3 separate regions of the Homo sapiens genome follow, and all the other regions are linked to region 2. The links come from fine-mapping of genetic effects on gene expression. A gene starts in region 2. Each other region holds a variant in brackets. All regions are shown on one strand. Distances are between the middles of the regions.

Region 1 (11,083 bases), 23 kb before region 2:
CAGCAGATTACTAACCCAGCTGGTGGTCACCCCTTCACTGTGCAGCTCCTGGGACCCATGGTCTAAGAATATCTTCTGCCTTTGCATGGCTGGGGTGCCTCCTTCCCCTAACCTCTTTCCTGGTCCTCTTCCTTGTGGTTGCGGGACTGACCTGGCAGAACGATGGCCCGGTATACCTGTCGAGGTTGTGAAAGATGGCTTCATCTACAAATATTAAATCTGCAGACTAAAATGCCTGTGATATTCATGTCTCTTTGTGGTGTGGTCTGTCTCCCACAAATATTGAAAAGAAAGAAAGATAAGCTTGAGTGAAGAGCCCTGGAATCTTTAGCCCCTGTGTCTTCAACTATGCCCCATTGCCCATCATTGGTGACTTTTTCCTGGTCAATTTCCCAACAATGATGAACCTGTTGTCCTGTTAGTATTGCTTTTGGTAGGAACAGTCTTCTGCTTCTTCCCGATTACTTCCCCCTTCCTTTCTTTGTCAGGCTGATGCCTCCCTGTGGCTTGGCTTTGAACCTGGTGGAACATTTGGGTTGCCCTCTGAGGCCTCCCGCCCTCCCAGTGAAAGCAGCTGGGGTCAGGCCTGCTTTGCTATCCCTTGAAAGGCACAGGCTGTCCTCATGATGGAGCCTCTGTCCACACCCATTCCACTCTTGGTTGCCTCATGCCGGCCACCCTAAATTTGTCTCATTGTTTCGAAAACACCAGTTATTTCACATCCTGTTGCTTTGTTCACAGTAATCTCTCTCTGGCATCATCTTTCCTGCCTGCCTCATGCACACTTACATCAGTTTCCTAGAACTGCTATAACACATTGACCAAAACTGGGTGGCTTAAAACTATGGAAACTTATTCTCTCACAGTTCTGAAGTCTGAAATTGAGGTGTTGGCAGGCCCACATTCCCTCTTGGGTATGTGGGTTCTTCAAATATAAGATGCTGACAGTTGTAAGATGCATTATTATTTTATATACTACTTAAGAAAGAAAAAACTCTGCCAACTAACTTATGTCATGCTATCAACTTTAAGTTGCATCCTGATTTCATTTTACGTGAAAAAATGTGCAATTAATGAAATGCAGCATAACTTACAGAAAGCCAAATGAATTCCACTCTCTGGAATCACAAGATTAGGATATATCAAACTGAATAAACAAATAAATGCACATTGGCAAAACTGGCCAAGCACAAAGAGGTTAAGACAATGTGGAAAGACCTTGCAAATACGACTTCTATATGCTCATTGGGTTCTGCCATTTTGAAGCACCCACACAAGTGTTGGAAGGCAGAAAGAAGCAGCAGCCAAATCCTAGGGCATTTGGTGTTTTCTGCTGGCAGTGAAAGTTAGAGGTGGCAGGCACAGCCTCTGGCTTCCAAGGTGACTACAGGCAGATGTGGGGTGGCTACACTCACTGCACCACCCGCTGTGCAGTGGTTCCTGGGCTCCTGTGTCCAGGGCACTGTGTGGCTGTGGCTTCCCGATTCTGGCCATCGTAGCTATGGATGGAGGTATGTTCTTGAGTGCAAGGATTTCCGAGGTAGCTTTCCTGATGGGGCAGGTGCAGACACTCATGTGCGGGGTCAGGTACACACTGTTCTTGGAGCAGTTCTTAGAGGTCATGTTAAGCTTCCATCTCCAGGCCTTACCAGTGTTTTCTAAGCAACCAAAATTATTTATCTCATTTCTGCTTAAAAGGCATAGAACAGTTCTTGGTTCTGGCACTGAGCTCCAGCTAATACAGTGTTTGAAACCAAACATGGTTGCAGGCAACTGACTCAAGATTGGAGTATTTGGATAGATTAAATTACGCTGAAGTAACAACTTCCAAATCTCATCAGCTTAACAAAATGAACTTCTGTCTGTCATTCATAGTGTCCAGGGCTTTGCTCTAGGTGGACATTCCGGGACTCAGGGTGATATGTTATTTTGGTATGCCAACCTGAGGCTCTGCAACAGGAGAAGGAAGCTGGGGAATTAGGTGCTGAATGCCAACTCAACATACAAAACTCAGTTGCATTTCCATACACCAATAACAAATTGGTTGAAAAAGAAGCAATATAATATTCCATGGTGTATATATAACACATTTTCTTTATGCATTCATCTGTTCATCAACACTCAGGTTGGTTCCATATCTTGGCTGCTGTGGAGTGCAGATATCTCTCTGACATACTGATTTCATTTTCTCTGGATACATACCCAGTAGTGGGATTGCTGGATCAAGTGGTAGTTTTATTTTTAGCTTTTTGAGGAACCTCCAACTATTCTTCATAATGGCCATTATTCCTGACTGCTCTTTTGAATGCTGAGTACCTCCTCTTTTCCTGCAGTGCATGCATGTAGAGAACCCAAGGCTGGGAGAGGAGAAAACTTGGGGTGCTGATAGCAGCAAGCTTTTCCGTATTAAAGGGAGCTGTGTTCTCTGAAGTTGGAGTGCCTTCAGCTGTGGCTTATCTCCCTTCAGCAAGCACAGGTCCCATGACATAGATTCTGAGGAAGACCTTGGTGAAGAATGTGGACTCCTAGCTCAGACCAAACTCTGCAACCTTAGCAAAGCTGGATATTCAATCTGTTGCATTCTTCTGATCATGTGTTACAATCTACAAATGGCAGAGCCATTGGCATTCAAACACCTGATGTTTTTCCCTGGTGTAATCCATGCCCCAGAGAGATAGGAAACCCTTCCTTCGTCTTCTTGGTCACAGTTTGGGAAGGTGTTTACCCCTGGGACCAGAGGCTCAAAATTCAGCAAAAAGTACTGATATGGTTTGGATATTTGTGCACTCCAAATCCCATGCAGAAATGTAATCCCCAGTGCTGAAGGCAGGGCCTGGTGGGAGGTGATTGGATCATGGACTGGATCACTCACGAATGGTTCAGCACCATCCCCTTGTGATGAGTTCATTCTCGCTGTGAGTTTCTGGAGATCCGGTTGTGTAAAGTGTGGCATTGTCCCCCCTTGCTCTCTCTTGCTCCTACTCCTGTGGTGTGAGACACGGGCTCCCCCCTTACCTTCCGCTGTCACTGTAAGCTCCCTGTGGCCCTCCCCAGAAGCAGATGCCAGCACCATGCTTCATGTCCAGCCTGCAGACCATGGGCCAATTGAACCCCTTTTCTTTATCAATTACCCAGTCTCGGGTATTCTTTCATCATGATGCAATTGCCCTAGTACCATCACTCCCACGTCCTAGTTTCAAGGAAGGCTGTTGTTTTAGTCCCAGCCCAAGGGAACATGTGAAGATATAGCCTCACAAAATTGAATGTGGAACTCTTGGACTTATTCTTACATGCCTGATTTAAAAAAAAATACTAGGGGCCGGGCGCGGTGGCTCACGCCTGTAATCCCAGCACCTTGGGAGGCTGAGGTGGGCGGATCATGAGATCAGGAGATCGAGACCATCCTGGCTAACACAGTGAAACCCCGTCTTTACTAAAAATACAAAAAAATTAGCCGGGTGTGGTGGCGGGCGCCTGTAGTCCCACCCAGCTACTCGGGAGGCTGAGGCAGGAGAATGGCGTGAACCCAGGAGGCGGAGCTTGCAGTGAGCCGAGATCGCGCCACTGCACTCCAGCCTGGGCGACAGAGCGAGACTCTGTCTCAAACAAACAAACAAACAAACAAACAAAACCTAGGAACAGTTGCACATAAAAGATACTCAGTAAATATTTCTGGAACTGAATTTCAGGTAGGCTATTTAGCCCCACCTATTAATCCTAACCTCTGGCAAAGGTGGCTTTAATCTTGTGAATGCTTAAGAAGCCTTAATGAGATTTAAGAAATTTTCCCAGGAACAAATAAGTTTTTCGTGTTATCCCCCTCAGTGAACACTGCGACACTTACATAACCCAGCATTCCTGCCCCATCAGCCTGAACTACAGAAGAAGGCGGTATTTCATTAACATCCCGTTGAGGATGCGGGGCCAGGGTCAGCCTGATTGACTGACACTCCTGTCTGCTCAGTGCCCCTCCTCCTCCCTCTCCTGCTCTGCTGTAGCCCAGGAGAGCGGCCTCTTCTGCCCTGGGTGCTGCCCTCTCTGCCTGCTGCCTTCCAGCTGGACTTGGCCACTGTGAGGCGCTGCTGAGAGCAGAAAGGGAAGCTGGAGTCCAGGTGCCTTTCTTCCCTTCTCTAGGGGACACAGCAGCAGCTTCCATCCCTCCAGTCGTCCTGGCTGCCTCCCTCAGGCCCTCCATGGCTGCTGCTTCTTCCAGGGACCCCGGGCTCTGCCTCCAGCACTGCTACCTCTGTTTCTCTAGC[C/G]TAGGAGGGTAGCGACTTCCTGTGTTTAAAAGCCTCTGGGTTGCTTTATTGTTTCCTGACTGGCTTCTTTGTAGATACTCCAACCGTCTGATTACACATCCTGTTTAAATAAGCAGCATGGATTTTTATATCCTGGTTCATGACTGATGCTGTTACCTCAAGATGCCCCTGGTGTTCTGAACCTCCTCAGGGCTGCCACCCTGCACCTGTCCACAAGCGGCCACGCGTGAACTCCCCCTGTGGCCACCATGCTGGCCTCCTGTGCTGCTGTGTTCTCTGACTAGAGCATTTGTCACTCAGCTGGGCATAGCTGTACTCTGCTGAGGAAGGCCCTGCTGTTAGTCCCAGCCCTGAGGGGAGGGATGACGAATGCTTTGCTGCTCTGTTTGAGTGCAACATGGGCCTCTCAATTTCCCACTGCAAAAAACAGTGTTGGACGCAATCTTTCATAAGGATTTAGAGATAGTTTGCAGATCACAGAAAATAAGAACAGAGCACAGAAAAACTTAAAAAAAAAAAAAACCCCACTGTGCCTATGCTTAGAACTCAATTTCATTCATTCCGCAAATATTTATTGAGCACTGACCACATACTAGGGAGCTTTTCTAGGTGTGGTGATTAGTGTTGGAGAAATCAGTCAATAAATATGAAAACATACCACAAAATAAGTGAATAATTCAGGCAATTGCTCTGGTCACAATTGTTCTGAAGGAACTAAAACTGAGGAGTAAGATGGAGAGACACAGTGGGGACTGGGGAGCTACTTTGATTAGAATGACACAGGGACAAAGACATCACCAAGAAGGTGAGACTGAAGCCAGAAACCAATGATGAGACAGAGGGGGTGATCGAGGCTCTGGAAAACCTCTGCACAGGTAGGTACGAGTCTCTATGTGATGCCCACATTTTCCTAGAGAAGAACTTGACAAGGACATGTCCATCTTGTTGCAGGGGCAGGGAGTGAGTCTCAGGAGATCTCAATTGAGTCTGTACCTTTGCTTGGGATGCAGGACCTGGGAGAGGTAGCCCAGAGCAGCATGAAGGCCTTGGCTGGGGTGGGGCAGGCCTGGGAGTGAGGGGCAGTGAGCAGCCCCAGAACACTATGACCCTGCTGCTATGGCCTCCCTTTGCCCTGTGCAATGAATGGAATCTTTACATCCCCACCAAAGTCGTATATGAAGCCTTAACCCCCAAGGTGATGCTATTTGGTGGTGGGTCCTGTGGAGGTGATTAGGTCGTGAGGGTGGAACCCTCATGAATGGGATTAGAGCCCCTCTTAGTCCATTTATTGTTGCTATAAAGGAGGACTTGAAGCTGGGTAATTTATAGAGAAAAGAAGTTTATTCAGCTCACAGTTCTGCTGGCTGGAAGTTTCAGGACTGGGCTTCTGGTGAGGGCCTCAGGCTGCTTCCAAGTGTGGAAGAAGGTGAAGGGGAGCTGGTGTGTGCGGAGATCGTGTGGTGAGACAGGAAGCAGGAAGGAGGGGAGGGGCCAGGTTCTTTTTAACAACTAGCTCTCATGGGAACTAATAGAGTAAGACCTTACCCCCCTCCCCTGGGAGGGCATTCATCTCTTCATGAGGCGTCTACCCCATGGCCCCCAAGCCTCCCATTAGACTCCATCTCCAACAATGGGGATCAAACTTGAACATGGGATTTGGAAGGGACAAATGTCCAAACTATACCAGTGCTTCTGATAAAATAGCCCCCAGAGAGATTGCGTGCCTGTTTCGCCACATGAGGACAGTGAGAGGACAGCTGTCTGTGACACGGGATGCAGGCCCCCGCCAGACCCTGAATCTGCCAGCACCTTGATCTTGGACTTTTAGCTTTCAGATCTGTGAGCTATCTATGTCTTTTGTTTATAACCCTCCCAGTGTACAGTACTTTGTCACAGCAGTCTTAACGAACCAGACTCCCGGTCAGAAGGTGTGGTCTTAACCAGACTTTTCAGAAGGCATTTTGAGAACTCTGAAAGCTGATCTTTTTGGCTCCCTACTTATGTGGGGGTGGTAAAAGAGGGGTAAGGTGTGTTTCCCCAGAGAGTCGGGCAGCATTTCTCTTTGTTGCTTGACAATGGATTCCCATTTATTCAGAGAGGATTATATGGGTGTGTCTTAGTCTGTTTCCTGTTGTGTAACAGAATAGCCGAGACTGAGTGACTCATAAAAAACAGAAAGTTGTTTGGCTCAGTCTTGGAGTCTTGAAAGTCCCAGATCACAGGCCCCACATCTGGTGAGGACATTTGTGCTGTGTCATCCCATGGCAGAAGGCAGGGGGCACGAGCGCAGGGGTAAGAGGATGAGAGACAAGAGAGGGCTGAAATGACTTTTGCAATAAACCCACTCTCACGATAATGGACCCGTTTTCGCAATAATAAGGTCAGTGCTTCATGACAGCAGGGCCGTTATGACCTAGTGACCTCTTAGAGGGCACGTCTTTACACTGTTGCACTGGGGATTATACTTTCAACACATGGACTTTGGGGGACACATTCAAACCACAGCAAGGTATTTGGCATTTTATCGCCATGCAATGTTAACATTTCTCTCATAACCCTGGGTTAGCCTTTCCTCGTGAATTGCAGCATCCTTGCTGAACTCTTGTTCTGTATGGTTAAATCTCCTATCAGAGTTTTGGGGCTGTATCCAACTCTTTGTAGTTTTGCTGTAAATAATGACTTTTCTTTCTGTCCAGCAAAATGTTTTAAAACAAGATGATACTTGATATGGAATGGCTCAAACATCCTTTATTCCTCTGATAAATAACTCACTTGGTGTGAATAATTCAGGCAATTGCTCTGATCACAATTGTTCTGAAGAAACTAAAACTGAGGAGTGAGATGGAGAGACACAGTAGGGACTGGGGAGCTACTTCAATGAGAGTGACACAGGGACAAAGACATCACCAAGAAGGTGGGAAGAAATTCTTTATCCCCTCATCATCCTATCTGGTGGTCCCCACTAGAGAAAACCCGCCAGGATTTCTTTCAGTGCAGCTAAAAAGGTGATGCTGGTGGCTGAGACTAGCTCTGAGAGGAGAACAAGCTTGCTCAGTTCTTTAAGGCCTCAGTTTTTAGCTGGCGGGTGGACTGAACGTTAGACAAATTTTTAACCTGTTGAATTGTGGACTCCAGGCAGTTCACATCAATGAAGACAGAATTTTCTTGTGACTTGATACGGAACATCTCTATTTAGTGCAAAAGCTTTAGCAATGGAATATAAAGGATATTCTCATCAAATTTATAGCAAACACAATGTTGAGATAAATGTAACCACATGGACTCATAGAATCAGACAGAGTTCTGACCTTGACCAGCCAGAGGGATGAGTTGAAAGTAAGATAAATTATAATTGTATGTTTCATAATTGGCTGTAAAATACGGATGGCACAAATACAGGTTGCAAGAAGCACAGTATAATAGAAACATTAAAGAAAACATGAGTTAGGTGTTTTATGTAGCAGAAGTTCCTTATTAGTTGAGAATGTAATTTGAATGATGTGGTTTTTTGGCCTGGACGGTAGAAGCTAAAGAGTATGCAGGGAAGGGCATCAGCTTCATCTAGGGAGATCATAGAAGGAGTCATAAAGGATGTGTGACTGGAGGAGGTGCATTTTAGATAAGTAAGAAGTCATTAAACTGCTGAAAACTAGGTGGGATAGAGAAAGCTGTTCCAGAAAGAGGCAATGGCTGAAAGAAAGGCAAGAATACAGACATTTATCCATGATTTCAGACAATTTTTTCTCACCAAAAGGATTCAAGAAAACAAGATCGAGACCATCCTGGCTAACACGGTGAAACCCCGTCTCTACTAAAAAAATGCAAAAAATTTAGCCGGGCGTGGTGGCGGGCGCCTGTAGTCCCAGCTACTCGGGAGGCTGAGGCAGGAGAATGGCGTGAACCTGGGAGGTGGAGCTTGCACTGAGCCGAGATCGCGCCACTGCACTCCGGCCTGGGCAAAAGAGCGAGACTCCGTCTCAAAAAAAGAAAAAAAAAAAAAAAAAGAAAACAAGACAATGAGAATCAAAAAACGAAACGGTCCTTGGTACAGGAGACAAAGATAATGAAAGTAGGAGTAGGTCTTCCTAAGAAATGTTGTTACGTGTGTGCTTGGGACCAGGTGTCAGGCTTTGTTCAATAAATTTTCAGTGAGGTATTGTTATGGGATTTATGATGAAAGGAATGGTGAGGAAGCTAACTTAGGTACTCTGGGAAAATTAGTGTTTAGATTCACTAGCCTAATGATAGTTTTATACCTTGTAAAATAAGTCTGGTGCCATTATCAAAGACATATTTGCATGCTTTTTTTGAACTTTTATTTTAAGTTCAGGGGTACGTGTTCAGGATGTCCAGGTTTGTTACACAGGTAAACCTGTGTCATGCGGGTTTGTTGTACTGATTGTTTCATCACCCAGGTATTAAGCCCAGTACCCATTAGTTATTTTTCTTGATCCTCTCCCTCCTCCCACCCTCCACCCACTGATAGGCCCCAGTGTGTGTTGTTGCCCCGTATGTGTTCTCATCATTTAGCTCCCACTTATAAGTGAGAACATACAGTATTTGGTTTTCTGTTCCTGTGTTAGTTTGCTAAGGATAACAGCCACTATCTCCATCCATATTCCTGCAAAGCATGTGATCTAATTCTTTTTTATGGCTGCATAGTATTCCATGGTGTACATGCACCACATCCTCTTTATCCAGTCCATCACTGATGGGCATTTGGGTTGATTTCATGTCCTTGCTATTGTGAATAGTGCTGCAATGAACATACACAAGCATGCATCTTTATAATATAAGAATTTATATTCCTTTGGGTATATGCCCACTAATGGGATTGCTAGGTTGAATGGCACTTCTGACTTTAGGTCTTTTGGGGAATCACCAGACTGTCTTTCACAATGGCTGATCTAATCTATACTCCCACCAACCGTGTATAAGCGTTCATTCCTCTCCACAACCTTGCCAGCATCTGTCATTTTTTTGACTTTTTAATAATAGCCATTCTAACTGGTGTGAGATGGTGTCTCCTTGTGGTTTTGATTTGCATTTCTCTAATGATCTGTGATGTTGAGCATTTTTCATATTTGTTGGCTGCATGTTTGCCTCCTCTTGAGAAGTGTCTGTTCATGTCCTTTGCCCACTTTTTATTGGGGTTGTTTGTTTCATTCGTGTAAATTTGTTTAAGTTCCTTATAGATGCTGGATATTAGACCTTTGTCAGATGCATGGTTTGTAAAAATCTCTCATTTTGTAGGTTGTCTGTTTACTCTGTTGATAGTTTCTTTTGGCATTTTAAATTTTTTAACTTAGAAATCAAGTGTGTACAACACTGAAGAGAAAATTCAAACTCCTCTAGCATGCAAATCTTTCTGTACGATTTTCCTGTAAGACAGGCCTGCAGAGACATGGAAGAATCAGAACAAAGTCAATGGATTGATTTCAACTTCATGTTGAAATTATAGGCAGCTGTAATCTCTGCCCTGCCCATCTTGTATTGATGGAAATAAAGAACGTGGCAGCCTTGTCTCCTACTGGGCTCTCAGTCAGGAAATGGAAGGAAAGGCAGAGTCAGATTAGCTGAGCTGTGGGTGGTGATGGATCTGAAGCAAAGCCATTCCGTGAGGCTGAATGATGGACATGTCATGCCGATGCTGGGATTTGGCACTTATGCTCCTGATCATGTAAGTGGACCCCAGGAGGCTGAAGGGTCTTATATTTTTTTGCACTAAGAGGATGATAAGCTGTTGACTCTGAGAGTTTGGAGGTTAATTTTTTGGATAATTCTTTTTATTATTATTATTGTGACCTAACATATATCAAATGGTTTCATGTATTGTATTTTCCATGCATTATCTTATTTAATTCTTCAACAACCGTCCTTGGTAAGTACTCACTACTTCTTACATTAAAAAAAAAAAAAAAAAAACCCATGCTCAGGCTGCTCTCATCTTCCACCTGCTCAGAGCCGCTCCACTCCTGGTTAGAAATGTGAAGGGCCAAGGGCCTAGGGGGAAGTGGAAACCAACATGAATACTTGCTGGCAGCTTTGCTGTGAGGTTGTTGGGGCTGGAAGTATTTGCCAGGGAGTTTCGACCATCCAAACCTTTTGTCACGTAAGAAGCCACTGTGATTCAGAACATTAGGTAATTCGATGGGAAGACTTAGGGGGCACAACATCACAGTAAGGACTGAAATACAGCCATCCACTCAGTTCATGGCAGAGAACTTGAAGTGTCACACTCTGGTCACGGTAACGTAAGGGCAGCTTTGGGGTTGCTTTGGAGGGATTGCCCCCAAAATGAGAGACCAATGGATGGGCTCAATCTTGGTAGAACTCTGTCATGAGATATCACGAGATAACAGCTGCCAGAAAGGGTCAGTAGGTTTTCAATGACATAATTATCCATTTCATCCATTAGGCATAATGTGTGTCTTACATATGTTATATGTAATGTTTATTACTCTTAGAAAAGACAGAAAAAAGTGCCATAGAGAATAGAACAAAATTCCCCATAACCCCCTCATTTACCATAATAAATTGTAATACGTGCACGTGCTTAATATTCAGACATTTCAAATGCACTAAGTGAAAAAGAAGCTTCCTTAATACTCTAATTGGTGTTTTTACCTTAAGTCACTGCAGGAACGAGAAGCTTTTTTCCTGCGTGTGTGTTGTGCTGTCTTTTGTCCTGCTGTTCTAGGAAGCTTGCTAGGGCAGAATCTCAGATGTAGTCATTAGACTATCCACTGTTTGAAATTTGAGGCAGAGCGTGTACATATTATCATCCTAACGTTGCAACGCCAGCTTGGTGAGGTGACGTCTGT
Region 2 (11,083 bases):
GTTTTTTTTGTTGTTTGTTTTTTTTGTTTTGTTTTGTTTTGTAAGGAAGTAGTATTTGGTAGTACTTAGTAGTAGCTGGAAATAGTATTTGGGGGCCTGCAGTGAGCAAGTGGTATGGTGGAACAATTGATCAAGAAATGCTTTTCTAAGGCCAAAACATTCTTGGAGCAAGGTTGTCTTGTGTTCCAAGGCTTGCACAGTCAAAGACTGGGTCAAGTTCCAGGGGAAGTGAGTAAGGAAAATCCTGACCAAGTGTGATCAAGTCAAGGAAGCAGGTATTTTGTCCAGATTTGCCTTTGTTTAGTATAAAGAATTTATTTTTTCTGTCTCAAGCAATTCTCTAGAAATGTCTTAGATTGATAAGTTGTCTTTCTTTTGAGAAGTGGAGCAGAGCAGGAGGGAGGTGGGATGGAAAAGTAGCAGAACTCAGGGGGAAGAGGTCTCACCTAGAGGCCAATGAGGACAGAAACTTTACATACTGCCATCCTTGCCTCTGCCCCCGGAAAGCCTTGTATTCCCAGGAAGAAGCTGCTGTCCTGGGGAAAGGTTAATGTGAGTGTTTTCTTCCTTTCAGGTTTTTGACTTTGAGTTGACTCCAGAGGACATGAAAGCCACTGATGGCCTCAACAGAAATTTCCGATATGCTAAGTTACAATTGTAAGTCATGCTTGCAGATTCTTTCACAGGCTGTTTTCTGTAATATGCAGGCAAACAGAGGAATACATCTTCCCTAAATCAGGAAGGCAGGCCAGATTTCAGGAATAGGTATGAAACAGGAGCTTCCCTATAGTCCTCATGTGGCTCAATCTGTGACCCAACAGGAATGTGAGTCAGTAAGTGAAACTGTTGACATCTGCACCATTGTGAATGCACTTCTTCAATTTTTTTTTTTTTTTTTCTGAGACAAAGTCTTGCTCTATTGCCTAGGCTGGAGTGCAGTGACACGATCTCGGCTCACCGCAACCTCTGCCTCCCGGGTTCAAGCAATTCTCCTGCCTCAGCCTCCTGAGCAGCTGGGATTATAGGCGTTTGCCACCACGCCCAGCTAATTTTTGTATTTTTAGTAGAGACAGGGTTTCACCATGTTGGCCAGTCTGGTCTCGAACTCCTGACCTCGTGATCTGCCCACCTCGGCCTCCCAAAGTGCTGGAATTACAGGCATGAGCCACTGTGCCCCGCCATGAATGCACTTCTTTAGTGCCCTTACTACCTGTGCCCGGTCCTGCACGCAGGGCCACTGCCTATTAGAATAGAAGGCACGGTGTCTATGACCCATCATACTTATAGGAGCCCATGATAATGTTCTAGCTTTAATTTATTTTAAAGTCAGAAGAAAAAGAGAATACAACAATGATGAATATGTAATAATGAATCCAGCCTCGTCTATCTTCATGTCTATACCAAGGCAATGTAAGACTTAATTTTAATATTTGTATAGAGCATTGGTCCATGAAAGCAAATGTGCATATGTCCTAGGGAAGTCACAGTGGGCCCTGCTTCCATGGCCTCCCCTAAGTGTCCAGTGACATTTCTCCTTACTGTGGCATTCCTTTTCCGAGACACCAACTATTTCTTCCAAATTTTTGTCTTCCTTGGCTTTCTTTACCTTCACAACTCCCATTTCCTCAGCTATATAATCTCACTAAGCTGAATGACAAATGAATTATGAAATTAATAGACCCTCAGTGCTAGTGACTGAGGTGTCCCCAGTGGCCTCCACCAAGTTAAGATCCTCTGGAATTTCTCCGGATCTTCGAGGCAAGACTCTTACTCCAGTGTCATCTTCGTCCATCTGAAGCCCACCTCTAAGGAACCCAACATAACTTCACTTTAGTTTATTCACAAACATGACGTTCCATTGGATCAACTGTGGCAGGATCTCAGGGTTGAGGAGAAAGATGACTAATCAAACAGAGCCAAGTTTGGAGGGGAGTTTAGAAACAGGGCGAAATATCATTTTAGTTAGGAAAATACTCAGTCTCCAAAACACATCTGAAAGGTCCCCCTTCTTTTTGTAAAACCATACCAGGCTTCCAAGAAAAGACATTTTCAATGAGAAAAATGTGAAAGCAACCTTTCTATACTCACAGGCCTTAAGTATAATCTGTGATCTGCCTCATGAGACTGTGAATGTCTCCTCTTACTCATCTCTGTGGCCCTATGTTAATACAGCTCCTGGTGCATTTAACTGCTTAGAAAGTACTCTTTAATGACACTCAATTAAAAAGAACGAATTATAAAAAAGAAAGCCCTTTTTGCCATTAAGGTAACATATTTTCAGGTTCCAGAGATAAGGGCATGTATGTCTTTGGGGGCCATTACTGAGCCTACTACACTAGTTTTGTAAGTAAATTTAGAGCAACTAAACTTTAGTTTTCTAATTTTTGTAATAGAAAGAATTCTATGTCCAGCCACTGGATCCTGAAACTCTAGACTTTTATCTCAGATATCAAGAGGAAAACCACATGAATAAATACCTGTTTCTTTAAAGCTGATGTAATCTTGACCCTATTGTATTTCCTCCTTCTGGATACATGCCCTTCATTATTTTATTCTAAAATTTATTCTCAGGATCTGTTGACATTGTCTTTTGTTGTTCATATGGAAAACTCAAGCTTTTCAGTTTGCCAACATTCTCAACTCTTCAGAATTTCTACTGATGTCTAGATTATACTTCAGGCAATGGATCCCATGTTTACTACTTAAACGTGCTTCATCTATGAAACCTTCAGTTGGACACATCTTATATTAATGAAGTCTCTTAACTCTGCAGTTTCTACTATACCTTGATTTATCAAGTTCTTGATTCATCAAGAGTTGTCATTAGGTCTCTCTTCTTTCCTCTTTGCATTCTTTCAATACCCATAGAAGTTTACGTATGAAAATTAGGCTAAATAATATACTAAATTGAAATTGATCAGACTCCACTTATTCTACACAAGTAAGTTTGGAAACATCTAATTTAAAGAAAAGCACTTTCTCACTATGGTTTCAGCAGTCAAGATGATTGCCTTTCCAACATCAGTTTTACTTTAAATAATTTGTTTAGGTCAGCCATGCTAATTTCATTGTGGTTGGCATAGGAGTCACTGTGGATAAAGAGTTGTGACCCAGCCTTAGCCAACGCCACATAAGAAGCACTGTGCTGGGTACTTCTAGGAGAGTTTCTCTCACTTCTAAGAAGGAGCCTTTGAAGAGAGGTTGCTTCTCTTCTTCAAGGGGATATTGTCCCATTGCAAGGTGAGGTGTGAAATTGCTGTGGAGTCTCCACCCAGCCTGAGGACGACATCAATACACAGAAGAAGAAAAAGGAGAAGATGAGAGAAATTCTGCACTCTCATGGATGACACCCAGAGTTTACCCTCCCTCTGGACTTCTTGTTATGGGACTAACACATTTTTGTGGATTTTAAACCAATTTGAATTACTTTTTTTGCACCTGCCTGTACTCTAATCCAAACAACCATCCAAGTTAATAATTTTCTCTTTACAATGCACCCTGCATTTTGTACCTATACAAGAGTGGTCAGAATGTGTGAAAACTGCTGAGTCATCCTGACAGCATGGCTCCAGTAGATTCTAGGGGTCGGCTATAGTATTGAGTGATATTAAAATAACAAATAATGCACAAAAGGCATGGATCTAAAAAAGTCTTTAGGAATCTTCACTCACTGAGAGCTCATATTCAGGACACAGTTTCTTCTTCAAATCACCTTGGACAAGTAAGTAACCCTTTTTGTTCCCTTTTCTGTAAAATAAGTTACAAGTTAAATCTACTTTGTAGGGTATTTGAGAGGATTCCCTGATAGTCTTGCCTGATACAGAATAGAAACTCAAAATCTTAGCTAGTAGCGTTGGTGTCATTGCTATTATCAGCACTATAATTTCCCTTGAGTTAGCCAGAAGAAATACTAAGTTTATTGGACAGTGAGTACAGGGTTGCCTTGCTCAGATGTACTGAGCCTACTGTCAACTTTAAGCCGCTCTCTGTGAGGTTAGAGTTTATCTTGGTCTGGGAGGACCAAGCAGAGTGCTTTAGAGATGACAAGCACAGCTGTGTTAAGAGACAACTTCCAAAGTTTGTGACCACATAGGATAAGTTACTCTAACTTTCAGTGCAGTTGAGCAAGAGTCCTTGATTGGTTTCTGTTGTGAATGCCAATATTTTTGTGTCATTTTGTGGGATCTTCCAGACACTGTCTGAGAGAAAATCTCCATAGCCTGGAGAGGAAGAAAAATGTCTGGATGGTGGGGTTTTGTCTCCTAGCACAGTTACCACCCAATGACCATCCTTCTTTACTTTTACAGGCCATTATGTTAAGCCTTTTTCATTTGTTGCTCTCCCATATCCCTATTTAGACTTTGATATCTGAAGGTGGAAACCATCCCTTTTCCCTCTGGAGCTGGAGTGATGTTCACGGAAGGCAAAGCAGCTGGGCCTGAATGGGGCTAAGCTCTGGGAGCCATGAGTGTCTCCACAGAAACAGAGCAGGACACCCGGAGGGACCACCCAAAACCTTGGGTCCGTTTGTGAGGCCATCAGATCCTCAGCTGGCATTTGACAAGGAGGATCAAGGTTGCAACAGCCTAAAGAAGTTTAATTTCAAGAAAACAGGTAACTTTTCTTTCTTCTTACTCATCTGAATTTGTGGATTGAAAATTATTTGCACCATATAGAGGAGTTTTCTAACTATCAAAGCACCAACAGTGGAGTTATTTGCTGCAGGACATGTTGAAATGATTCTCATTGAAGACAACTGGATGAATTCCCAGTGATGTTTGAAATGCAGGTTTGCCAGAGGAAAAGTCTGTTGAATTCTGTTTTTGAGAACCAGACATTTTCTTATAGATTAGGATAAACTCCTTGCATAATAAAGGTGTTTATCCATGGACTTCACATTTTATTCCTGTTGCTGTCTGATACTTTCCCCAATTACTTGGTTTAATTTGGCCTTCAAGCTCCCCTCCAACCCTGAGAGGCTGTTAGTGTGAACCCAGAAAGATTTATTCTGTCCCATGTTTTTATTTCTCCTGGAGCACAGTAGCACGAAAGAGGAGTGGATAGTATCCCCAAAATACAGAAGGGAGGAAACGGATGTGGAGAGAGAGGGAAGTAACCAGGGTACTTTGTCCACCTTCACATGATCCTAGGGATTATCCTGTGTCACAGGCACTTCAGAGTTGTTTTATTTTGGTGGTGTCTAAAAGATTTTAGTCTTAAAACACACATCCAGCCTGGGCCACAGACGTTGTCTCTACAAATAATAAAATAATTAGTCGGGCGAGGTGGCATGCGCCTGTGGTTCCAGCTAATAGGGAGGCTGAGGTGGAAGGATCACCTGAATCCAGGTGGCTGAGACTACGTAAGCTATGATGGCACCACTGCACTCCAGCCTGGACGACTCCTTCTCATAAAACCAAACCAATCCACACACACACACAGAGAAGAGAAACAGAGTTTACTTTTGAATATCGTTGAGAGAATATACTGAATTGCCTGGCGTGATGCGAATGAAGCAACATAGTTCTGTTCCTATAACAAGGACATTGGAAACAAAATTTTCACCAGTTGTAGCATTTCCAATTAGTCTAGTTGGGAGTCACCAGGATTAGATCAAAGTATAAATCCAAAGACTGTCAGAAAATATTCTGAATTCAGGAGAGAAGGGAAATCATGATAGAACAGGAAGTCTGATCTGTGTACAATCAGAAGATATCATAATCCAAATTTTACATCAAGTTAGGGGTACATGCAGGGTTTAACTCTGGAGAAACTTCACACAGAAGTCTGAAGACACCAAGAAGTGTCTTGGCAGCTGAGTAAAGGCAGCTTGGGATGAAGTTGAGAGTGCTGGGCATCTGCCAGGAAATTTCATGGTATTCAGCTTCATCAGAAATATGACTTGCAACTAAATATTTTTATCCCATTCTATAGGTTGCTTTCTGATGCTTAGTAGTCTCTTTTGATGCAAAAATGTTTTAATTTATGAAGTCTCATTCATCTATGTTTTCCTCTGTTGACTGTGCTTTTGGTGTCACTTGCATTTGATTTTCAGCAATTTCAGCCCTGTGGCTGTAAGACATAGGATTCTCACTCAGCGCACACCTAGAAGCTCTTAGGTCATGTGTGCTTAATCCAGGATTTTGAATTCCTGAGCTCACCCTTTTTTTTCTTCCTCTTTCCAGCAATATGAGGTGCAACTAACCAACATCATTCTATTCTTAGTTTTCCACAAATGTTTGAAAGTATCACATACAGAGTCACTATTTTTTTTGCCTCTTTTAAGTTGTTAAGTAGAGTATCAATGCAGATGTTTTGTGCACTCTATAAATACTTCATATCATGGACTATCAGTGCTCTCTTCATTATTGGAAATAAAGTCCTTCGCATTTTCAAGTCTAATCTGATTAGACTGACAATGCCAGAAACCCCAAAACCAATTCAGGAAACTCAAAATTCTATTCCTCTAGAACTGCTCCAGATACCAAAATCTATATTAGTCAGGGTTGTCCCAAGAAACAAAACATATAGTGTGTGTGTGTGTGTGTGTGTGTGTGTGTGTGTGTAAATGAAAGAGGAAATCTCACATGAAAGACTCAATCAATGCAGCAAACTTTATTTTATTTTATTTTATTTTAAATAAATGACCACAGCCACCTCACCCGTTAGTAACCACCACCCTGGTCAGTCAGGAGGCATCGACATCATATCTAAAACCTCCACTATCAACAAGATTATGACCTGCTGAAGGTTCAGATGACTATTGGCATTTCTCAGAAATAAAATATTTTTAACAAATGCATGCATATTTTTTTCTTTAGCTGTAATGCTATTGCACACTAAATATATGACAGTATAGTGTAAACATAACTTTATATGTACTGGGAAATCTAAATATTTGTGTGACTCATTTTATTGTCATATTTGCTGCATTGCAGTAGTCTAGAATTGAACTTGCAATATCTCTGAGATATGCTTGTATATAATATGTTGTCTATATCTTATCACAGTTTTTGACTAAATTTTATTTTTCCTGGTCCTAGTATAGCCACCACAGCTCTTTTTTGTCACTGTTTTTATAGAATATCTGTTTCTGTCTTTCACTTTCATACTAGTCACATCTATAGATGCAAACTGAGTTTCTAGTGCTGAGTATATAGTTGGATCTTGTTTCTTTTAATCCATTTTGCAAATTGATCTGCCTTTTGGTGTGGGGGTTTAATCCATTTACATTTAAAGTATATTCATGTGCTGCATAACAACATTTTGGTCAATGATTGACCATATATACAACAGTGGATTTATAAGATTACAAAACCTATTACTGCTCCTTTTATATGTTTATGTACACAAATACCATTGTGTTACAATTGCCTTATAGTATTCAGTAGAGGAACATGCTGCACTCTACTGTTTATAGCCTACAGGCAATGGTCTAGACCAGAAAGCCTATAGTAGAATATACCATTTAGATTCATGTAAGTTCACTCTATGGTGTTCACATGATGCTTGAATTGCCTAAAAATGCATTTCTCAGAATGTATTCTTATCATTAAATGACAGATAACTATAATTAGTGACAGCAACTTAATTTTGCATTTTAATATTTTTCTTTTCCTGTATGTCTATAGCATTTTGTTCTTCATATCCTCCATTACTAACATTTTTTTGTGTGTGTCACTGATTGATTTTTAGGGACACTTGGATTTCCCTCTCATTTTCACTTGTGTATATTCTATAATTGTTTTCTTTGTGGTTACCATGAAAATGACATAAAACATCCTAGAGTTATAAAATCTCCTTTGAAATCAATACACATTTAATTCTGTACATAAATTCCCCTTTTCCACATCTGTGTTTCTCTCAACTTCACATTACTGATGTCACTAATTACAACCTCATACATTGTGTACATGTTAACATAGATTTATAGTTATTTGTACACATTTGAATTTTAAATTTTTTTTTTTTTTTGAGACAGAGTCTTGCTCTGTTGCCCAGGCTGGTGTGCAGTGGCACAATCTTGGCTCACTACAAGCTCCGCCTCCCAGGCTCATGCCCTTCTCCTGCCTCAGCCTCCCAAGTAGCTGGGACTACAGGCGCCTACCACCATGCCTGGCTAATTTTTTATACTTTTTAGTAGAGATGGGGTTTCACCATGTTAGCCAGGACGGTCTTGATCTCCTGACCTCATGATACACCTGCCTTGGCCTCCCAAAGTGCTGGAATTACAGGCATGAGCCACTGCACTCAGCCAAATTTTAAAACTTGAACAGAAAGCTAGTATAAACAAAACTTTCAAAAATACATGTTTTTGTATTTTGTCCCATATTTACCTTGATGAGAGGTCTTTATACTTGATACGACTTTACATAACCATCTAATCTAACATTCTTTTATTTCATAGTGAATTACTCCCTTAAGCATTTCGTGTAGAGTAGTTCTAGTGGCAATGAGCTCTGTCAGCTTTTGTTTATATCACATTGTCTTTATAACTTCCCAATTTCTGAAGGTCATTTTTGTCAGATACAGAATTCTTGGTTGGCAAGTTTTCTTTTTTCTTTTACCAATTAAAAAATATATATAATCTCATATGCCCTCCAAGGTGTCTGATAAGAAATCTCCTGATAACTTCATCCAGAATTCCTTGTACCTCATGAGTTATGTTTCTCTTGCGGCTTTTCAAATGATCTCCTTGTCTTTGGCTTTTGAGAGTTTGATTATAATGTATGTGGGTCTGGGTCTTTTTCAGTGTATTCTCTCTGCAGATCTTCAAGTTTCTTGTATTTGTAGATTCATGTCTTTCATCATATTTGAACCATTCTTTTTCATCTTTTTCTTTCCAACTTTTATTTTAAGTTCAGGGGTATATGTGCAGGTTTGTTTCATGAGTAAATTTCATGTCATGGCAGGAGATGTACAAATTATTTAGTCACCCAGGTAATAAGCATACCTATATAACAAACCTGCACATGTATCCCTGAACATAAAAGTTAAAAAAATAATTTTTTAAAAGTCCTAAAAACTCCAAACATACACATTTGTATAGGAAAATCATGTAGGTGGATACACATTAAGTATTTTTCAATGGGAATATTACAGCTTATTTTTGTTCTCTTGTTACAGGCTGAAAGAATGAGAGTTGTGACCAACTCAGTATACCACTGGAGGCTATATGAGCAAACAGAAAACTGTTCTTATGAAAGCAGGATGTTGGAAAACTGATAACTGTGTCTGCCGCCAGAAGGGGTGCTGAGGGCAGTCAGGCCTCATGCACAGTGTTCCTTGTGATTATCTATAGGAACATCTGAAGCCTGTTGTACAAAGAAAGCAATTATGTGGACCTGTGATAAATCAAGCAGTGGACCAACCATTAGCTCTCCCTCCCTGCTCTTTCTACCTAACAAATATGAAAGACTGTAGAAACTCAGGGCTGCCTTTGCTCTCTAGAAGCAAGGAGCCCCTGACCCCCTCTTTCAAAATAGGTCTTTTCGTCTTTGTCTTTACTTCTGCATTCGACCCCCTTCATTGACCCTGTAGAAACTGTCAGTGACATTCTCTTTTCCCTTGTATTTTCTAAATTTTCTATAATTTGCATGTTATTTTAATAATTAGTGAGGGCATCAAAGAAGTGGATTTACAATGGTGCAAACATTGGCAGTTTCAGTTAGGAACTCATATTCCTGTTGGGTCAGAGATTGAGCCCTGGAGGAAACCTCTGGTCTGAGGGCTACAGGGAAGCTCCTGTTTCATGCCTATTCCTGAAATTAGGCCTGTCCCTCTGATTTAGGGAAGATTTATTCCTCTGTTTGTCTGCATACTACAGAAACAGCCTGTGAAAGAATCTGCAGGCATCACTTACAATTGTAACTTAGCATATTGGAAATTTCTGTTGAGGACATCAATGGCTTTCATGTCCTCTGGAGTCTACTCAACAATTTTTCTTCAAAGTCTAAAGGAGATTTTTTCTTCCAGCATAATATTCCGTGCAGTGCAGAAAGTCTTTTCTTTTGCCTTTTGGTAAATGGCCTAAGAGATTTTACAGTTTATTGAGAGAATTCCTATGCCATTATCATTAAGTTTTGGTTTGCTTAGAATGTAAAAAAAACTGAGATTAGAACAAATTTTTAAAAAAGTAAGGTTATTACATCTGTATATCTTTCTGTATGTGCTTTTAAAGTCCTTGTGACATTGAGTTACAGGGCTTTGACTCCTGGATCTATAAAGGACACCAAGTCCTGCTACATCTTAAACACTGACAACAATTAAAGCCTCATCTTCAGGCGCAGTAGAAGATGCCAATCAAAATAAATTGCATTCCTGAGACATAGGGCCAGAAATAAAAGCTATTCAACTCCTCAAGGCCCCAGGACTATTGTGGAAGAGGTGGGTGTGTGAGATTGAAAGGGCCAATTTTGAGAGACAAAATAAGTTCAATTTCTCTGTAAATTAATCATTAATGTCAAAGGCACACTGATGCAAGACAAGAATATGGCCCCCTGTGACAGATTAACAAGGTTTTAGTGAAGCATTAACTGACTCCTTAATAAAGGTTATAAAGGTTATAAAAGGCTTAAGAAAGTTATATCCTATTGTCAAGATTAAAAGTTCATAAATTGTTAATAAAATTTTGAAAAACAGATTTAATTGGTATCACACTGTTTTTATTAGGGCTTATAGTTTGGAAAATTAAGTCTTCTCTCTCAAAGAAAAAAGGTTTTTGCCTTTTTTTGGAATCCTTGTGTTATCACTTTGGTTAAATGAATGACTTATTTTACAATGACCTGTAATATCAAGTGTTTTAAACCATTGATATTTGACAAACTTTCCAAATCAAATTATAAATTATTTCTTTTTCAGACCTAATTAATCCTTTAAGATATTAGGTTCCCTAAAATCTAAAAATGAAATTTGGCTCACTTGGTGTAAAAATTATACAGGAAGTATTGTCAAACATGAAATGGTGTTTGGTTATCTTTGGGCTGTATTTGTATAAATATGTAATTGGCATGTGTTCCAAAATTATGGGAAACTCATATAACTCTGATATAACTTAGTATACATTATCAGTAATAATCATTGT
Region 3 (11,083 bases), 26 kb after region 2:
GCCTATGTCCTGAATGGTAATGCCTAGGTTTTCTTCTAGGGTTTTTATGGTTTTAGGTTTAACGTTTAAATCTTTAATCCATCTTGAATTGATTTTTGTATAAGGTGTAAGGAAGGGATCCAGTTTCAGCTTTCTACATATGGCTAGCCAGTTTTCCCAGCACCATTTATTAAATAGGGAATCCTTTCCCCATTGCTTGTTTTTCTCAGGTTTGTCAAAGATCAGATAGTTGTAGATATGTGGCATTATTTCTGAGGGCTCTGTTCTGTTCCATTGATCTATATCTCTGTTTTGGTACCAGTACCATGCTGTTTTGGTTACTGTAGCCTTGTAGTATAGTTTGAAGTCAGGTAGTGTGATGCCTCCAGCTTTGTTCTTTTGGCTTAGGATTGACTTGGCAATGCGGGCTCTTTTTTGGTTCCATATGAACTTTAAAGTAGTTTTTTCCAATTCTGTGAAGAAAGTCATTGGTAGCTTGATGGGGATGGCATTGAATCTGTAAATGACCTTGGGCAGTATGGCCATTTTCACCATATTGATTCTTCCTACCCATGAGCATGGAATGTTCTTCCATTTGTTTATGTCCTCTTTTATTTCCTTGAGCAGTGGTTTGTAGTTCTCCTTGAAGAGGTCCTTCACATCCCTTGTAAGTTGGATTCCTAGGTATTTTATTCTCTTTGAAGCAATTGTGAATGGGAGTTCACCCATGATTTGGCTCTCTGTTTGTCTGTTGTTGGTGTATAAGAATGCTTGTGATTTTTGTACATTGATTTTGTATCCTGAGACTTTGCTGAAGTTGCTTATCAGCTTAAGGAGATTTTGGGCTGAGACAATGGGGTTTTCTAGATAAACAATCATGTCGTCTGCAAACAGGGACAATTTGACTTCCTCTTTTCCTAATTGAATACCCTTTATTTCCTTCTCCTGCCTGATTGCCCTGGCCAGAACTTCCAACACTATGTTGAATAGGAGTGGTGAGAGAGGGCATCCCTGTCTTGTGCCAGTTTTCAAAGGGAATGCTTCCAGTTTTTGCCCATTCAGTATGATATTGACTGTGGGTTTGTCATAGATAGCTCTTATTATTTTGAAATATGTCCCATCAATACCTAATTTATTGAGAGTTTTTAGCATGAAGGGTTGTTGAATTTTGTCAAAGGCTTTTTCTGCATCTATTGAGATAATCATGTGGTTTTTGTCTTTGGCTCTGTTTATATGCTGGATTACATTTATTGATTTGTGTATATTGAACCAGCCTTGCATCCCAGGGATGAAGCCCACTTGATCATGGTGGATAAGCTTTTTGATGTGCTGCTGGATTTGGTTTGCCAGTATTTTATTGAGGATTTTTGCATCAATGTTCATCAAGGATATTGGTCTAAAATTCTCTTTTTTGGTTGTGTCTCTGCCCGGCTTTGGTATCAGAATGATGCTGGCCTCATAAAATGAGTTAGGGAGGATTCCCTCTTTTTCTATTGATTGGAATAGTTTCAGAAGGAATGGTACCAGTTCCTCCTTGTACCTCTGGTAGAATTCGGCTGTGAATCCATCTGGTCCTGGACTCTTTTTGGTTGGTAAACTATTGATTATTGCCACAATTTCAGAGCCTGTTATTGGTCTATTCAGAGATTCAACTTCTTCCTGGTTTAGTCTTGGGAGAGTGTATGTGTCGAGGAATGTATCCATTTCTTCTAGATTTTCTAGTTTATTTGTGTAGAGGTGTTTGTAGTATTCTCTGATGGTAGTTTGTATTTCTGTGGGATCGGTGGTGATATCCCCTTTATCATTTTTTATTGTGTCTATTTGATTCTTCTCTCTTTTTTTCTTTATTAGTCTTGCTAGCGGTCTATCAATTTTGTTGATCCTTTCAAAAAACCAGCTCCTGGATTCATTGAGTTTTTGAAGGGTTTTTTGTGTCTCTATTTCCTTCAGTTCTGCTCTGATTTTAGTTATTTCTTGCCTTCTGCTAGCTTTTGAATGTGTTTGCTCTTGCTTTTCTAGTTCTTTTAATTGTGATGTTAGGGTGTCAATTTTGGATCTTTCCTGCTTTCTCTTGTAGGCATTTAGTGCTATAAATTTCCCTCTACACACTGCTTTGAATGCGTCCCAGAGATTCTGGTATGTGGTGTCTTTGTTCTCATTGGTTTCAAAGAACATCTTTATTTCTGCCTTCATTTCGTTATGTACCCAGTAGTCATTCAGGAGCAGGTTGTTCAGTTTCCATGTAGTTGAGCAGTTTTGAGTGAGATTCTTAATCCTGAGTTCTAGTTTGATTGCACTGTGGTCTGAGAGATAGTTTGTTATAATTTCTGTTCTTTTACATTTGCTGAGGAGAGCTTTACTTCCAACTATGTGGTCAATTTTGGAATAGGTGTGGTGTGGTGCTGAAAAAAATGTATATTCTGTTGATTTGGGGTGGAGAGTTCTGTAGATGTCTATTAGGTCCACTTGGTGCAGAGCTGAGTTCAATTCCTGGGTATCCTTGTTGACTTTCTGTCTTGTTGAGCTGTCTAATGTTGACAGTGGGGTGTTAAAGTCTCCCATTATTAATGTGTGGGAGTCTAAGTCTCTTTGTAGGTCACTGAGGACTTGCTTTATGAATCTGGGTGCTCCTGTATTGGGTGCATAAATATTTAGGATAGTTAGCTCCTCTTGTTGAATTGATCCCTTTACCAATATGTAATGGCCTTCTTTGTCTCTTTTGATCTTTGTTGGTTTAAAGTCTGTTTTATCAGAGACTAGGATTGCAACCCCTGCCTTTTTTTGTTTTCCATTGGCTTGGTAGATCTTCCTCCATCCTTTTATTTTGAGCCTATGTGTGTCTCTGCACGTGAGATGGGTTTCCTGAATACAGCACACTGATGGGTCTTGACTCTTTATCCAATTTGCCAGTCTGTGTCTTTTAATTGCAGAATTTAGTCCATTTATATTTAAAGTTAATATTGTTATGTGTGAATTTGATCCTGTCATTATGATGTTAGCTGGTGATTTTGCTCATTAGTTGATGCAGTTTCTTCCTAGTCTCGATGGTCTTTACATTTTGGCATGATTTTGCAGCGGCTGGTACCGGTTGTTCCTTTCCATGTTTAGCGCTTCCTTCAGGAGCTCTTTTAGGGCAGGCCTGGTGGTGACAAAATCTCTCAGCATTTGCTTGTCTATAAAGTATTTTATTTCTCCTTCACTTATGAAGCTTAGTTTGGCTGGATATGAAATTCTGGGTTGAAAATTCTTTTCCTTAAGAATGTTGAATATTGGCCCCCACTCTCTTCTGGCTTGTAGGGTTTCTGCCGAGAGATCTGCTGTTAGTCTGATGGGCTTTCCTTTGAGGGTAACCCGACCTTTCTCTCTGGCTGCCCTTAACATTTTTTCCTTCATTTCAACTTTGGTGAATCTGACAATTATGTGTCTTGGAGTTGCTCTTCTCGAGGAGTATCTTTGTGGCATTCTCTGTATTTCCTGAATCTGAACGTTGGCCTGCCTTGCTAGATTGGGGAAGTTCTCCTGGATAATATCCTGCAGAGTGTTTTCCAACTTGGTTCCATTCTCCACATCACTTTCAGGTACACCAATCAGACGTAGATTTGGTCTTTTCACATAGTCCCATATTTCTTGGAGGCTTTGCTCATTTCTTTTTATTCTTTTTTCTCTAAACTTCCCTTCTCGCTTCATTTCATTCATTTCATCTTCCATTGCTGATACCCTTTCTTCCAGTTGATCGCATCGGCTCCTGAGGCTTCTGCATTCTTCACGTAGTTCTCGAGCCTTGGTTTTCAGCTCCATCAGCTCCTTTAAGCACTTCTCTGTATTGGTTATTCTAGTTATACATTCTTCTAAATTTTTTTCAAAGTTTTCAACTTCTTTGCCTTTGGTTTGAATGTCCTCCCGTAGCTCAGAGTAATTTGATCGTCTGAAGCCTTCTTCTCTCAGCTCGTCAAAATCATTCTCCATCCAGCTTTGTTCTGTTGCTGGTGAGGAACTGCGTTCCTTTGGAGGAGGAGAGGCGCTCTGCGTTTTAGAGTTTCCAGTTTTTCTGTTCTGTTTTTTCCCCATCTTTGTGGTTTTATCTACTTTTGGTCTTTGATGATGGTGATGTACAGATGGGTTTTCGGTGTAGATGTCCTTTCTGGTTGTTAGTTTTCCTTCTAACAGACAGGACCCTCAGCTGCAGGTCTGTTGGAATACCCTGCCGTGTGAGGTGTCAGTGTGCCCCTGCTGGGGGGTGCCTCCCAGTTAGGCTGCTCGGGGGTCAGGGGTCAGGGACCCACTTGAGGATGCAGTCTGCCCGTTCTCAGATCTCCAGCTGCGTGCTGGGAGAACCACTGCTCTCTTCAAAGCTGTCAGACAGGGACACTTAAGTCTGCAGAGGTTACTGCTGTCTTTTTGTTTGTCTGTGCCCTACCCCCAGAGGTGGAGCCTACAGAGGCAGGCAGGCCTCCTTGAGCTGTGGTGGGCTCCACCCAGTTCGAGCTTCCAGGCTGCTTTGTTTACCTAAGCAAGCCTGGGCAATGGCGGGCGCCCCTCCCCCAGCCTCGTTGCCGCCTTGCAGTTTGATCTCAGACTGCTGTGCTAGCAATCAGCGAGATTCCGTGGGCGTAGGACCCTCTGAGCCAGGTGTGGGATATAGTCTCGTGGTGCGCCGTTTCTTAAGCCGGTCTGAAAAGCGCAATATTCGGGTGGGAGTGACCCGATTTTCCAGGTGCGTCTGTCACCCCTTTCTTTGACTCGGAAAGGGAACTCCCTGACCCCTTGCGCTTCCCAGGTGAGGCAATGCCTCGCCCTGCTTCGGCTCGCGCACGGTGCGCACACACACTGGCCTGCGCCCACTGTCTGGCACTCCCTAGTGAGATGAACCCGGTACCTCAGATGGAAATGCAGAAATCACCCGTCTTCTGCGTCGCTCACGCTGGGAGCTGTAGACCGGAGCTGTTCCTATTCGGCCATCTTGGCTCCTCCTCACTTTACACTATTTTTTTAAGTCAGGCATATAAGAATAAGAGTTCCATATTCACTTTGTGAGGCTATATTTTCACATGTTCGCTTGGGCTGGGACTAAAACAACAGCCTTCCTTGAAACTAGGATATGGGAGTGATGGTAATAGGGCAATTGCATCATGATGAAAGAATACCTGAGACTGGGTAATTAATAAAGAAAAGGGGTTCAATTGGCTCATGGTCTGCAGTCTGGACATGAAGCATGGTGCTGGCATCTGCTTCTGGGGAGGGCCACAGGGAGCTTACAGTGACAGCGGAAGGTAAGGGGGGAGCCTGTGTCTCACACCACAAGAGTGGGAACAAGAGAGTGAGGGGGCAGGTGCCACACTTTACACAGCCAGGTGCCCATGAACTCAAAGCGAGAACTAATCACATGGGGGTGGTGCTGAACCATTCATGAGTGATCCAGTCCATGATCCAATCACGTCCCACCAGGCCCTGCCTCCAGCACTGGGGATTACATTTCTGCATAGGATTTGGAGTGCACAAATATCCAAATCATATCAGTAATTATTGCTGAATTTTGAAGCCCCTGGTCCCAGGGATAAACACCTTCCCAAACTGTGGCCTGGAAGACCAAGGGAGAATTTCCTGTCTCTGGGGCATGGATTACACCAGGGAAAAACATCAGGTGTTTGAGTGCCAATGGCTCTACCATTTGTAGGTTGTAACACATGATCAGAAGAATGCAACAGATCAAATATCCAGCTTTGCTAAGGTTGCAGAGTTTGGTCTGAGCTAGGAGTGCGCATTCTTCACCAAGGTCTTCCTCAGAATCTATGCCATGGGACCTGTGCTTGCTGAAGGGGGGATAAGCCACAGTTGAAGACACTCCAACTTCAGAGAACACAGCTCCCTTTAATACTGAAAAGCTTGCTGCCATCAGCACCCCAAGTTTTCTCCTTTCCTAGCCTTGGGTGTTCTACGTGTGTGAACTGTAGGAAAAGAGGAGACACCCAGCATGTAAGAGAGCAGTAGGGAGTACTCAGAACCCACTAAAGACAGCAGATCCTCCTGCTCTCAGCCCCAGGGCACCCCTACCCACCATCCCCCAGACCAAATGAACTCTGCTGTGCAGCTCCTCCTGCCTAAAATTGTCTCCATTCCTGTTTTTCATGCCGCAGGAAGTTAGACAAATGCTGAGGTTATCAGAACAGTAACAACAACAATACTTACTGCTGTGTGCCAGCGCCTTTATTGAAGTGTAATTTATATATCATGAAACTCACCAATTTTTAACATACAGTTCTATGAGTTTTAGCAAATGTCTAGAGTTCTGCAATCATCCCTGTGTTAAGGCTCAGAAAATCATACTACAAAGTGGAAAATGATACCCCAAGGTAGGGAGCTTTGACAGGCTGAACTGAGACAGCAGGCTCAGGGTCTCCCCCACCATACCCCTCCCCTCCTCCCACCTTTCCTCCCTTTGTCTCCCAAGAAGTGCAAGATTAGGCTCTTTTCTGAAGTTTCTTTACCTAGAAACTGGACTCACAAAGAGGAACACAATTGCTTTCAATCTCTCCCTGAAATTTCATTAACCAAAGAGGATTAGAACTTATGTAACAGAGGAAGAGACTGAAAATTAAACACCAACATTTACAGCCTAAACCAACTTTGTCCCAAATTGTTATTTGTTCTGTGCTCCCAACATCCAAAGTAAATAGACTACAGGATGATCTTTGCCTCCCAGGTCCATTCATCTCTCCTGAAAATCATTGACTCCCATACCGCCTATTTCCTCACCTCCCCTTCTCCCATGAAGTGAGGTATATAAGCACCTGGACCTCACCTGGGTTATTAGGTCATGATTCTTCTGCAATTCTTCCATTCTATACACATAAAAATAAACTTATATGCCTTTTCGCTCCTCATAATTTTTTTTT[TG/G]TTCATTCATTTTCAGTGAAATTTCAAAGGATAAAGAGGTAAGATTTCCCTTTTTGGCCCTATAACCACAATCTCATTTTGAAACACTTTCATCACCCCAAAAAAATTCTCTGTGCCCATCTGCAGGCAATCTCTCCTCCCAACACCAGCTCTAAGTAACCTGTAACCTACTTTCTGTCTATAAAGCTTCACCTCTTCCAGAAATTTTATAAAAATCAAGTCAAACAATAATTTTTTAAATATTTGACTTTTACTTGATTAAAATATTTGTGGTTAATTTTTGTTCTTGCCTGTACCAATAGTTTGCTCCTTCTTATTGAGAAGTATTTGTTCCATTGTATGGATGTACCGCGTTCTGTTTCTCTATTCACCAGTGAACGGAATTTAGATTGTTTCTAGTTTTTGGCTATTATGAATAGTATTGGTACAATGAACATTTGTGTAGGAGTCTGTGAATCTACATTTTTCTTTTGGGTGGTTGTCTAGGAATGGAACTTCTGGGATCTAGAATAAGTGTATGTTTAACTTGTTAAACTGCCTCACTGTTTTTCAATGTGGCTGCACCATCTTACATTTTTCATTAGCCATGTTTGACTCTCCTGCCCAGAGACAGCCACCTCATCCTGTTTCTCCACCTTTGTTTGCTTTGTTTTGCTGACTGTGCCCACTGGTGTTTCTAGGTCATGAGCCTCCTCAGTGCCCAGTCCAGGATATACAGGAGGCAAAAAGATCCAGAGGACTTACTGCCCAGTCATCTCTTCAGTCCTGGGGTCTAGGTCCCTAGACAGTCTGCCTTCTTTTCTCAACATTTCAGAGACTTTTACTGTTTTTAGGTGTAACGGGTAGGGGAGCACATTTAAGTGCGACACTACATTTCTGGAACCAGAAGCAGGTGTCATGGTTAAGAGCATGCGCAAGTCTAAATCACACTGCCAAGTCTCATCTCCTGTCTCTGGCTTACTTCTCCCACGTCCCGGGAGAAGTCCAGCAGAGGCATTGGCTCCAAATCGAATCTCCTGAGACTCACTCCCCTTCCCCCCGCAACAATATGACCGTGTCCTTGTCAAGTTCTCCTTTAGGAAAGTACTTGAGTCACGCCAAGAATAGTACCTGTCTGAGCAGAGGTTCCCTAGAGCACCATGTCACCCCCTCTCTCTCATCATTTTGTTCTTAGCTTCAGTCTCATCTTCTCAGTGAGGTCTTCATCCCTGTGTCACTCTATTCAGCGTAGCTTCCCAGTCCCCATTATCTGTCTCCTTCTCAACCCTCTGTTTCAGTTTCTTAAGAATTGTCATTGTTAGTAATTATTTGATTTATTCACTTATTTCATGGTGTGTTTTCATAATTATTTTGATTCTTCCAACTCTAACTACCACACCGAGAAAAACTCCCTAGTATTAAACACATCTTTGTTAATCGAAATAGGAACGATTACGACCAACACATTTTTGCCAATGAGAAATAAGTTTGTTCCTATAACATAAAAATCCATGCTTCAGCATTCTATGAACTCTCAGAAAGCATTTTCTGTATCAAGCTGGTTGTGGAAGCATTTTCCCTGCAAAAAGTTGTCAGATGCTTCAAAAAGTGGTAGGTGGTTGGTGAGAGGTCAGGTGAATATGGCGAATGAGTCAAAACTTTGTAGCACAATTCCTTCCATTTTTGAAGTGTTGGTTGTGCAACGTGCAACTGGGCGTTGTGGAGAAAAACTGGGCCATTTATGTTGACCAGTGACTGCTATAGGCATTGCAGTTTTCAGTGCATCTCATATATCTGCTGAGCATACTTCTCAGATGTGATTTTGCTGGGATTCAGAAAGCAGTAGTGGATCAGACCAGCAGCAGATCACCAAACAGTGACCATGACCTTTTTTGGTACAAATTTGGCTTTGGGAAGTGCTTTGGGGCTTCTTGGTCCAACCATTGAGCTGATCCTCATCAGTTGTCTTATAAAACTCACTTTTTGTTGCATGTTACAATCAAATCATGCAATGGTTCATTGTTGTTGCATAGGATAAGAGAAAATGAAACTTCATGGTTCTTTTGATTTTTTGCTCAGCTCATGAGGTACCACTTATTTCACCTTTCCAATTTGCTTCAAATGCTAAACGTCTGTAGAATGATCGATGTTGAGTTCTTTGGCAACTTCTTGTAAGAGGATCAGCTTTGATTGCTTTCAATTTGTAGTTGTCAACTTTCGATGGCCGGCCACTACATCATCTTCAAGGCTCTTGTCTTTGTAAAACTTCTTGAACGACCACTGCACTGTATATTAGTCAGCAGTTCCTGGGCTAAGTGTGTTTTTGTTGTTGTGTGTTTCTGCTGCTTTACAAATCATTTTGAACTCGAATAAGAAAATCACTCGAATTTGCTTTTTGTCTAATGTAATTTCCAGTCTAAAATAAACATAAAATAAACAGCAAGTAATAAGTCACTAGCAAAATAAAGTGAGAAATGCCCATTAAAATGATACATAATATAATCACATTTATTTAAGAATGTATTCTAGTATCAAACAGCAAATTCCAACAATGCAAAAACCACAATTTTTTTTATTCTTTAAGTTCTGGGATATGTGTGCAGAATGTGCAGGTTTGTTACATAGGTATACACATGCCATGGTGGTTTGCTGCACCCATCAATCCATCTACGTTACGTATTTCTCGTAATGCTATCCCTTCCCCATCCCCCCACCCCACAACAGGCCCCCGGTGTGTGATGTTCCCCACCCTGTGTCCAAGTGTTCTCATTGTTCAATTCCCACCTATGAGTGAGAACATGTGGTGTTTGGTTTTTCTGTCCTTGCAATGGTTTGCTCAGAATGATGGTTTCCAGCTTCATCCATGTCCCTACAAAGGACATGAACTCATGCTTTTTTATGGCTGCATAGTATTCCATGATGTATATGTGCCACATTTTCTTTATCCAGTCTATCACTGATGGACATTTGGGTTGGTTCCAAGTCTTTGCTATTGTGAATAGTGCCACAATAAACATATGTGTGCATGTGTTGTCTTAGTAGAATGATTTATAATCCTTCAGGTATATACCCAGTAATGGGATTGCTAGGTCAAATGGTATTTCTGGTTCTAGATCCTTGTTGAATTGTCACACTGTCTTCCACAATGGTTGAACTAATACACTCTCACCAACAGTGTAAAAGAATTCTTATTTTTCCACATTCTCTCCAGCATCTGTTGTTTCCTGACTTTAATGATTGCCATTCTAACTGGCATGAGATGGTATCTCATTGTGGTTTTGATTTGCGTTTCTCTAATGAGTAATGTTGAGCTTTTTTCGTGTTTGACTGCATAAATGTAGTCTTTTGAGAAATGTCTGTTCATATCCTTTGCCCACTTTTTGATTTTTTTTTTTTTGTCTGTAAATTTAAGTTCCTTGTAGATTCTGGGTATTAGCCCTTTGTCAGATGGATAGATTACAAACATTTTCTCCCAGGGTTGCCTGTTCACTCTGATAGTTTCTCTGGCTGTGCAGAAGCTCTTTAGTTTAATTGGATCTTATTTGTCAATTTTGGCTTTTGTTGCCATCGCTTTTGGTGTTTTAGTCATGAAGTGTTTGCCCATGCCTATCTCCTGAATGGTATTGCCTAGGTTTTCTTCTAGAGTTTTACTGGTTTTGGGTCTTACGTTTAAGTCTTTAATCCATCTTGAGTTAATTTTTGTATAAGGTGTAAGGAAGGGGTCCGGTTTGTTGTCTGCATATAGCCAGTTTTCCCAACACCATTTATTAAATAGGGATTCCTTTCAGCATTGCTTGTTCTTGTCAGGTTTGTCAAAGATCAGATGGTTGTAGATGTGTGGTGTTATTTCTGAGGGCTCTGTTCTTGTTCTTTTAGTCTATATATGTTTTGATACCAGTACCATGCTGTTTTGGTTACTGTAGCCTTGCATAGTTTGAAGTCAGGTAGCATGATGCCTCCAGCTTTGTTCTTTTTGCTTAGGATTGTCTTGGCTGTACAGGCTCTTTTTAGGTTCCATATGAAATTTACAGTAGTTTTTTCTAATTCTGCAAAGAAAGTCATTGGTAGCTTGATGGGGATAGCACTGAATCTATAAATTACTTTGGGCAGTATGGACATGTTCATGATATTAATTCTTCCTATCCATGAGCATGGAATGTTTTCCCATTTGTTTGTGTCCTCTCATTTCCTTGAGCAGTGGTTTGTAATTCTCCTTGAAGAGGTCCTTCAC

Evidence for each region. PIP is the estimated chance that this variant, and not a neighbour inherited with it, causes the effect.
Region 1: its variant is fine-mapped to the expression of LINC02561 in whole blood (INTERVAL, PIP above 0.99).
Region 3: its variant is fine-mapped to the expression of LINC02561 in whole blood (INTERVAL, PIP above 0.99).

Annotation. Positions count from the first base shown.
Region 1 is chr10:5,287,264-5,298,346 of GRCh38, reverse strand. No RefSeq gene overlaps it. Among named protein-coding and RNA genes, the nearest start is that of LINC02561, 22 kb to the right of the region's middle. RefSeq lists an enhancer at 5,961-7,160. The variant C/G (reference allele first, on the strand shown) is at 4,260.
Region 2 is chr10:5,264,729-5,275,811 of GRCh38, reverse strand. It overlaps LINC02561 (long intergenic non-protein coding RNA 2561), which reads left to right and starts at 4,576. Exons shown (of 2, transcript NR_149060.1): 1 at 4,576-4,614; 2 at 9,127-9,823. It also overlaps the pseudogene AKR1C7P. RefSeq lists an enhancer at 3,074-4,273.
Region 3 is chr10:5,239,224-5,250,306 of GRCh38, reverse strand. No RefSeq gene overlaps it. Among named protein-coding and RNA genes, the nearest start is that of LINC02561, 26 kb to the left of the region's middle. The variant TG/G (reference allele first, on the strand shown) is at 6,873.